Homo sapiens: one gene and its partners. The protein of the gene in region 2 purifies or fractionates together with the protein of the main gene of each other region. This does not show direct contact. Each region holds a gene or a part of one and is shown on either strand. Other genes may lie near its edges. The genes, in order: CA9, ITGA2 and CD46.

The links.
Region 1: the proteins of ITGA2 (region 2) and CA9 purify together in Homo sapiens (affinity purification with western blotting, with the first as the bait; one study listed by BioGRID). This does not show direct contact.
Region 3: the proteins of ITGA2 (region 2) and CD46 purify together in Homo sapiens (affinity purification with western blotting, with the first as the bait; one study listed by BioGRID). This does not show direct contact.

Annotation. Positions count from the first base shown.
Region 1 is NC_000009.12:35,676,910-35,679,434, forward strand, and holds part of CA9 (carbonic anhydrase 9 precursor), read left to right. Parts: intron 1-767; coding exon of another isoform or gene 768-782; exon of another isoform or gene 783-880; coding exon 881-947; intron 948-2,275; coding exon 2,276-2,433; intron 2,434-2,525. UniProt on the Homo sapiens protein: Catalyzes the interconversion between carbon dioxide and water and the dissociated ions of carbonic acid (i.e. bicarbonate and hydrogen ions).
Region 2 is NC_000005.10:53,069,295-53,072,953, forward strand, and holds part of ITGA2 (integrin alpha-2 precursor), read left to right. Parts: intron 1-814; coding exon 815-966; intron 967-2,643; coding exon 2,644-2,754; intron 2,755-3,318; coding exon 3,319-3,401; intron 3,402-3,659. UniProt on the Homo sapiens protein: Integrin alpha-2/beta-1 is a receptor for laminin, collagen, collagen C-propeptides, fibronectin and E-cadherin. It recognizes the proline-hydroxylated sequence G-F-P-G-E-R in collagen.
Region 3 is NC_000001.11:207,761,985-207,765,643, reverse strand, and holds part of CD46 (membrane cofactor protein isoform 3 precursor), read right to left. Parts: intron 1-3,659. UniProt on the Homo sapiens protein: Acts as a cofactor for complement factor I, a serine protease which protects autologous cells against complement-mediated injury by cleaving C3b and C4b deposited on host tissue.

The DNA of each region.
Region 1 (2,525 bases), on a different chromosome or scaffold from region 2:
TGGTGTGATCTTGGGTCACTGCAACTTCCGCCTCCCGGGTTCAAGGGATTCTCCTGCCTCAGCTTCCTGAGTAGCTGGGGTTACAGGTGTGTGCCACCATGCCCAGCTAATTTTTTTTTGTATTTTTAGTAGACAGGGTTTCACCATGTTGGTCAGGCTGGTCTCAAACTCCTGGCCTCAAGTGATCCGCCTGACTCAGCCTACCAAAGTGCTGATTACAAGTGTGAGCCACCGTGCCCAGCCACACTCACTGATTCTTTAATGCCAGCCACACAGCACAAAGTTCAGAGAAATGCCTCCATCATAGCATGTCAATATGTTCATACTCTTAGGTTCATAATGTTCTTAACATTAGGTTCATAAGCAAAATAAGAAAAAAGAATAATAAATAAAAGAAGTGGCATGTCAGGACCTCACCTGAAAAGCCAAACACAGAATCATGAAGGTGAATGCAGAGGTGACACCAACACAAAGGTGTATATATGGTTTCCTGTGGGGAGTATGTACGGAGGCAGCAGTGAGTGAGACTGCAAACGTCAGAAGGGCACGGGTCACTGAGAGCCTAGTATCCTAAGTAAAGTGGGCTCTCTCCCTCTCTCTCCAGCTTGTCATTGAAAACCAGTCCACCAAGCTTGTTGGTTCGCACAGCAAGAGTACATAGAGTTTGAAATAATACATAGGATTTTAAGAGGGAGACACTGTCTCTAAAAAAAAAAACAACAGCAACAACAAAAAGCAACAACCATTACAATTTTATGTTCCCTCAGCATTCTCAGAGCTGAGGAATGGGAGAGGTCTATGGGAACCCCCCTTCATGTTCCGGCCTTCAGCCATGGCCCTGGATACATGCACTCATCTGTCTTACAATGTCATCCCCCAGGAGGGCCCGGAAGAAAACAGTGCCTATGAGCAGTTGCTGTCTCGCTTGGAAGAAATCGCTGAGGAAGGTCAGTTTGTTGGTCTGGCCACTAATCTCTGTGGCCTAGTTCATAAAGAATCACCCTTTGGAGCTTCAGGTCTGAGGCTGGAGATGGGCTCCCTCCAGTGCAGGAGGGATTGAAGCATGAGCCAGCGCTCATCTTGATAATAACCATGAAGCTGACAGACACAGTTACCCGCAAACGGCTGCCTACAGATTGAAAACCAAGCAAAAACCGCCGGGCACGGTGGCTCACGCCTGTAATCCCAGCACTTTGGGAGGCCAAGGCAGGTGGATCACGAGGTCAAGAGATCAAGACCATCCTGGCCAACATGGTGAAACCCCATCTCTACTAAAAATACGAAAAAATAGCCAGGCGTGGTGGCGGGTGCCTGTAATCCCAGCTACTCGGGAGGCTGAGGCAGGAGAATGGCATGAACCCGGGAGGCAGAAGTTGCAGTGAGCCGAGATCGTGCCACTGCACTCCAGCCTGGGCAACAGAGCGAGACTCTTGTCTCAAAAAAAAAAAAAAAAAAGAAAACCAAGCAAAAACCAAAATGAGACAAAAAAAACAAGACCAAAAAATGGTGTTTGGAATTGTCAAGGTCAAGTCTGGAGAGCTAAACTTTTTCTGAGAACTGTTTATCTTTAATAAGCATCAAATATTTTAACTTTGTAAATACTTTTGTTGGAAATCGTTCTCTTCTTAGTCACTCTTGGGTCATTTTAAATCTCACTTACTCTACTAGACCTTTTAGGTTTCTGCTAGACTAGGTAGAACTCTGCCTTTGCATTTCTTGTGTCTGTTTTGTATAGTTATCAATATTCATATTTATTTACAAGTTATTCAGATCATTTTTTCTTTTCTTTTCTTTTTTTTTTTTTTTACATCTTTAGTAGAGACAGGGTTTCACCATATTGGCCAGGCTGCTCTCAAACTCCTGACCTTGTGATCCACCAGCCTCGGCCTCCCAAAGTGCTGGGATTCATTTTTTCTTTTTAATTTGCTCTGGGCTTAAACTTGTGGCCCAGCACTTTATGATGGTACACAGAGTTAAGAGTGTAGACTCAGACGGTCTTTCTTCTTTCCTTCTCTTCCTTCCTCCCTTCCCTCCCACCTTCCCTTCTCTCCTTCCTTTCTTTCTTCCTCTCTTGCTTCCTCAGGCCTCTTCCAGTTGCTCCAAAGCCCTGTACTTTTTTTTGAGTTACGTCTTATGGGAAGGGCCTGCACTTAGCGAAGAAGTGGTCTCAGAGTTGAGTTACCTTGGCTTCTGGGAGGTGAAACTGTATCCCTATACCCTGAAGCTTTAAGGGGGTGCAATGTAGATGAGACCCCAACATAGATCCTCTTCACAGGCTCAGAGACTCAGGTCCCAGGACTGGACATATCTGCACTCCTGCCCTCTGACTTCAGCCGCTACTTCCAATATGAGGGGTCTCTGACTACACCGCCCTGTGCCCAGGGTGTCATCTGGACTGTGTTTAACCAGACAGTGATGCTGAGTGCTAAGCAGGTGGGCCTGGGGTGTGTGTGGACACAGTGGGTGCGGGGGAAAGAGGATGTAAGATGAGATGAGAAACAGGAGAAGAAAGAAATCAAGGCTGG
Region 2 (3,659 bases):
ATAATTTTTTTTCATGAGTTGGTATTAGGAAACAGAGGTTCAAAGAGGGTAAGTAAATTGCCCCAAGTCACAGAGCTCATAAACAGCAGAATTAGGATTCAAACCAAGTCTGCCTGACTGAGACTTTATTGCTGCAGTGTTGCATGCATTTCCCTATGTGAGCATCTAGAATAGGTCAAGCACTGTCCATGTTCCCTTAGAGTATCTCAGTTAATCTTCACAATAACAATTAATTCTTACAACTGGATGGAAGCAGAAAGAATATGAGCTCTTATTTCAAAAATACCCAACTTTTACTTCTGACTAGCCATGTGAACTTAGGTGAATTATTTTACATCACTTATTCTAGTACATTATTTGAAAAATAAGATAATAAAATTCACTTTCCAGATTCATTGTAAAACTTGTATGGCATACATGAGAATGTGTCCAGTTGCAGGCGCTCAGCAACTGTTCCTTTCCATTCTGTGTCTCCGTGTTATGAGTAATGAAACCCGTGCTTGTGGGAGTGAGCAATTTGCCCAGGTTCATCACAGTAGGTTTCCTGGCGGCAAGTCTAGTTTCCTTTCCACTGCTCCCAGCCACATTTCTCTGAATCACATTTCTTTGTATGCACAGTCACCTACGTCACATCAGAGCTAGAATGACAAATGCTTTGTGGTGCTAGCTATGGTTCACAAGCCACCAATATGAAGACTATTTCCATATTTTCTTGATGTGAGATACTTTGTCCAAGAAGACACAATAAAGCAAAGATGCTTTTTCCTATAAGTTGATTTGAAATAACATTTCTTTATGATTTTTTTTATCATAGCCATTGTATATAACATCACACTTGATGCAGATGGATTTTCATCCAGAGTAACCTCCAGGGGGTTATTTAAAGAAAACAATGAAAGGTGCCTGCAGAAGAATATGGTAGTAAATCAAGCACAGAGTTGCCCCGAGCACATCATTTATATACAGGTAAGGCCTCAGGAACATCCCTTTTGACTTTATTTCTTCCTAAAGACGAGAGAGTGGTAAAAGTCAAAAATGGAAGCTTATGAGTTAGAAAATGCTCACCCTTCCAATGAATGCCTTTCTTATGTAATTCCATAAATAAGAAGCATATTTACTTTATGCTAATATTTATGGTCACAATCTATTATATAAGTCAGCAACATCAAATTTCATTTAGAATTGCAATGAAAGGGCTAAAAATACAATTCTTAAAGAAATCATAGATACAGTGTTTTCTTAAATGTTTAACAGAGAGAACTTTCCATTGGCAATAAATGTTATTTTGATATTTTCCTATCAGGGAAAAATTTTATTTATTGTTCAGCTACTGAAAAATAACTCCAATTGTGGTTTCTACTATTAGATTTAAGTTAACATAGATGAAATATAGTAGATTATGAGATAACAATTATTTGTTCTAATCGTATGCTGTAATTACTGTATTTAACATGGATTTTGAAAATTTCCCAAGTGAGAAAAATGCTTTTCAGGAGAAAACTTCCAGCCGGAAATTTATTTTATAAATGATGTGAATATTTCCACCTTGGAAACCACATAATGGCATTTGAAAGGATAATTTACTCAGGAAATCACTTTTTTAAAAGGATATTTAAGTACTTTCTTAGAATACAGTTCTCAGAATTTAAGGTGCGAAAGAACTGCCAGGGAAACTTTTGGGAAATGTATATTCTGGGTTCTTACCATCAGAAATCTAGGTTTGAAGGCCCAAGGAATATGCAGATCTAAGGAGCAACCCAAATATTTCTGATGTAAATGGATGGTACAGAGAGATCTTACTTCAAGAAATGCTAAGTGTAAACACTAGAAAAACATAAAGTTGACGGTTAGATGAATTAAAATCAGTTGAGTTGTTTAGTTCATTTTTCAATTTGAAGGTTTCTTGTTTGTGAAGACGTAGACTTCTTTTTTGTTAAAGTGACAATTTTATAGATTCCTTAAAGGAAAAAATCTTATTTCCCTTCTCTCCCATCCTGTGCTGACTGGTGGATCAGATTATACATGCAATCCCTAGTGAGGAAATGGAGACAGCCAAGCTGTTTTTCTTTAAAGTTTAAAAAAACAAAATCCTTTTTCACTATTTGATATCAATGCCAGTTAAAGTACATCCTACTTGCTAAGCCCGCAGCCAGCCAAGGAAACATCTCCTCATAGTCCAGAGCTGTCATGGTAGACAGGCCCCCAGAAGGAATAAGTCCTTCTGGGAGGACTTCTGGGAGGCCCCCAAGAGTTAAGAGTAAGTCCTGCCTGTGAATGGACTAAAGAATACCAAGATACCGCTTCTGAGGAAAAGGCAAATTCAAATGTTAGGGTTTCATTTGTATAGACATAGTGCTTTTTTGACAAGAACTGATGAGCTTAACTAAGAATCCCTGCTTCAAATTCTTACTAGACCCAAGTCTCTTTTGGTTTCTTAGTAGAAGAGAGGCTAAAAGCAGAATTAGGATGGAAGAAAAGAAGCGAGAGTCTTGATTATTCACAACAAAGATATTCTACATAATTGAGAGCTGACTGTGCTCTAAATTGTAAACACATTTGGAATCATTTTCTTGTTTTAATGTTGCTATGCTCTAATAAACTGACTCTGTCTCCCCCTGTATGTTTGTGTGTGTGTATGTTTAGGAGCCCTCTGATGTTGTCAACTCTTTGGATTTGCGTGTGGACATCAGTCTGGAAAACCCTGGCACTAGCCCTGCCCTTGAAGCCTATTCTGAGACTGCCAAGGTCTTCAGTGTAAGTGCAGCTTACACTTCCTGGATTTAGACTGGCAAATAAAGTTCCACAGTCACTGCAATAGTGTCTGAAGGATGGTTAGGATGCAGCCTGAAAATTCTTAATTTTCTAAATGAACTACAATTACATATGCATAAAGTTCACTAACACTTAAGTTCCATGACAGCAGGGATTTTTGTCTTTCTTGTTCACTGCTGTGTTTCCACTCCCTAGAGCAGGGCCTGGCCCATTGTATGTGTTCAATATATATTTGTTGAATAAATAAATAAAAATAAAGTAAATGCCTTGTGCTCATACTCAAAAAATATTACCAATACATATGAAGCTCTGCGTATAGCTGTCCCCGCCATAGACACTTTCATCTAGCTCCCCCTGTGCAAATGATTATCTTGAATTGTGTGTTTATTAATGCTTTTCTTTATTATTTTGTTAAACATTTATATATTCCTAGAACATTGTTTGGTTTTGTACTTTATGTAAATAGAATAATATTCTATGTATTCTTCTGTAATTTGCTTTTTCAACCCAAGAGCAAATGTATGGATCTTTTTTCCTTTTTCGTAGATTCCTTTCCACAAAGACTGTGGTGAGGACGGACTTTGCATTTCTGATCTAGTCCTAGATGTCCGACAAATACCAGCTGCTCAGTAAGTTTTACTTTAAAGCTTGTTGTAAAATGTAGAAATAAAAGACATACTAGATTACTTTATTCAAACGAATGTTTATAGAGTTTTTCTACAAAAGAAACATTCATAACTCATAAATACCTTTAAAAACTAAATTTCAATGTCTACCATCCACATAGGAGTAAAACAATAAGAAATATAAAATTATCTGTATTTAAATGGTTCCATTCCCTCTAATACAATAGCAACAAAGAACAATCCAATTGCATTTACTTATTT
Region 3 (3,659 bases), on a different chromosome or scaffold from region 2:
TTTCGGCCTTTCCAATAGGTATTTAGTGGCATCTCATTGTGAGTAGAGACAGTTTTTATTTCTTCTTTTCCAACATGTGTGCCTAATAGCTTTCTCTTGCCTTACTGTACTGGGTGGGATCTCCAATATAATGCTGAATGGAGTGGTAAGAGTGGACATCCTCACTGTTTTCCTTCCAGAATTAGGTCTTTATTAATTAGACAGAAATGTAAGTAAGGTTTTTTTAACCACTAAGTACAATGTTACTTTTTACCACTAAGTATAATTTTTTTGAACCATGAAGTGTAATGTTAGCTGTGAGATTTTTGTAGATGTCTGTTATCAGGGTAAGATAGATAGTACCCTTCTGTTCCTAGTTTGCTGAGAAGTTTTATCATGAAAAAATAAGATGATGAATTCTGTCAAACATTTTCTTTGTTTTTTGCATCTAATAAGATAACCACATGATTTTTTTTCTCCTTAATAGTCTACTGATGTGGCAAATTACACTGATTAATTTTTGCATTTGAACTAATCTTGCATTCATAGGGTAAATCCTACTTGGTCATGATTTACTTTTCTTTTTATGTATCACAGGATTTGGTTTGCTAATATTTTGTTGAAGATTTTTGGTCCTGTGTTCATCAAGGATATTATTTGTAATTTTCTTATAATGTTTTTGTTTTCTGGTTTTCGTATAAGGACAATGCTATCATCATAAAATGGGATGAGAAGTGTTCCCTCCTCTTGCACTTTCTTGAAACGCTTGTGTAGAATTGCTGTGATTTATTCCTTAGATGGTTGGTAGAACTCCCCAGTGAAGCCATCTGGACCTTCAGTAGGTTATTAACTACAAATTTTATTTCTTTGGTAGATATAGGAGTATTCAGGTTATCCATATCTTCAAGTGAGTTTTGACATTTTGTATCTTTCAAGGAATCTGTCCATTTCAGTTGTCAAATTTGTAGGCATAAAGTTGTTTATAATATTCCCTTGTCATCCTTTAAATGTCTGTAGGATATTTAGTGATATTCTCTTTTTCATTCTTTTGTTTGTCTGTTGAATAATTTTGTAAAGTAATCAAGTAAAGTTTACATCACTGATATTAAAGAATGACCATATGCACAAAAGAATATAAAGCTTTTTGGCTAAGGGATGGGGGGAAGTCAGAAAAAGGATGAGAAACACATACGGGGTGGACGTGAGGAAGGAAAGTGAAAGGTGTAGGCACCCCCACCTCACTTCCTGAGGCAGGGCCGTCAAGGACTCTCAAGATCGAGCGGCCATTAATTACATGGATTCAGATTTCTTTCATTCTAGACTTAAATTTAACCTTAGGTTTTGGCTCCAGCACCAATTTAACAGAGCAACGTAGGCATTTCCAATCCAGCAGCACACGCTGTTTCCAAGCGCATGTGACTGGCGCACCGCAGCTCCGTGCACACCCCAGGAGCTCAGTCCGTGCCCAGAGCAGGTGCCTGTGCTGTGGAACCTGACAGGAAGCCTCCCAGAACACCGCCTATCACAAGGCGCCACCTGAGGGGATCTGAGGTCTCTAAAGATCAACTGGTGCCTGTGATTTCCAAAGATTTAACCTTAGCCTTCAATGACATTTACATATAAATTGTCAAATAAAACCCTCCATAATTTACACTTAAGTCTAGGAAGACATGGCACAAATGTTCCAATGACAAAAAAAAAAAAAAAAAGTGTAGCAGCTGTGTGTGTTTTCCCCACTTTGACCAAGCTCTCACTGTAACACAGGGCATAAATGAGAAGGGTTGCACACAAATTTAAAGTATACAAAAAAAAAAAACCAAAAAATCATACGTTAACGCTGTTGACTTGTTAACAATGCAAGGAAACTCACTGGAAAATAAAATCCCTTATTTGAACCTTAAAAGAATGAAATGTACCAACTAAACTGTGTAGGCTCTAATGTAGCAGCACAGAATGTTTCCAGAAAAAAAATACATTGAAAAAAAATAAAAAATATTCAGAGATAAAACTAAAAAGATTAAAATATATATATCTTAAGAAAACTTATTGCTCAAAACATATGAAACTTAATTCTAAGAAATTCACCTACCTAAATTTAAACAAGATTGCTGCAGTTGCAGCTCGCCGTCTCCGAGAGACACGAAAAGTGATGAGGGGCGCAGGGCTGTGGGGATGTCAAGACTGGCCCAAGGTCAAAAAGCCCTTGAGGAGAGCCCTAGCTCCCACTGAGACCAGCCTCTGGCCTGCCCTCTGCAGACGGGAAGGAAGGGGATGGGTCTGGGGCTGCAGACCCTGCTGGAATTAGCAGAGGAGCCAGCAAGGCTGGGGGGCTATAGGCTGGCCAGTCTCCCTTAGCTGGATCCCGTACTCCACGCCTGGCCAGCACTCCGGGACGCCTGGCTCAGGTCTCCATCAGGATCTCCACTACGTGTTCCTACTTGCCCAGGTCAGAATGCAATTGCAGCTGGAGGTGGGAGGCCGGACGGCAGCAGGCCCAAGCCTCTGAATGCTTTGCAGGGCCACCTCCCATCGTGTGGGTCAGCACCGTGTGTCCAGGTCATCATAGGAACTGACCACATCTGAGGCCAGTTCTTCCATGCAAACTGGGGTTTTTGGTCTTCAGTATTTCAAATATCTCATCTAGCTACTTCTGAACGCCTCCTCTATTTTCCCCAGGGCTGTCCGTCTCCCAGATGCTGCTCTTCAGGGCTCCTGGCGCCAGTGCTGAGGTGACAGAGCAAAGGTCTGAAAACTGGCCCCTTCACGCAGCAGTGTCCAAAGCGGGGGGCATGGCACACCCCCTCTGGCTTCCACATGGCGGGCACAGGCCACAGGCACAGGATCTCTGCAGAAACCAGGCAGTGGAACAACGCCAACCCCACACTCTCGGGTGCCTGTGTGTGCCACGTCTCATCCTGGGCCATCTCCTCTTGGATCTGCCAGGCGTGTTGGCGATGAGGACCCTGCGGCAGTGGTTGGGCTCCACCAGCAAGTGGTAAAGCTGGAACTTCTAAAAGGACAAGTCCGGGAGTGACTGCCCCTGCCGGCTGCAGGAGGGCAGGGTCTTCAAGCTGGCTGGGGTGCCGCGCCTGGCCACCACTTCTTTCATTCTCAGTATTGGTTAATTTGCGTCTTTTTTTGTCAGTCTGGCTACAGGTTTACACACTTTATTGATCTCCAAGTAGCAACTGTTGGTTTCACTGATTTCCTCTATTTTTTTTTCTTTTCTCAATTTCATTGATTTTGGCTCTATTTTTATCATTTCCTTACATCTGCTAGTTTGGGATTTAACTTGCTCTTTTTTAGTTTCTTAAGGTGGAAAATTAGATCATTGATTTGAGACTTTTCTTTTTTTCTAACACAAGTATATTATGCTATACATTCCCCTGTAAGCAATGCTTTAGCTGCATCCTACATATTTGGATATTTTGAGATGTTGTGTTTTTATTCAATTCAAAACACTTTCTAATCTCCCTGCTGACTACTTCTTTTATGCATGGGTTATTTAGAAGTGTCCTGTACACTTTCCAATTCTTTGGGGATTGGCTTTGTTATTGATTTCTGCTTTCATTCTATTGTGATAATGCATGTTGAATGATTTCAATTTTCTGAAGTTTGTTAAAAGTTGTCTTATTGTCTAGAATATGGTCTACTTTGGAGAATGTTTCATGTGTACTTGG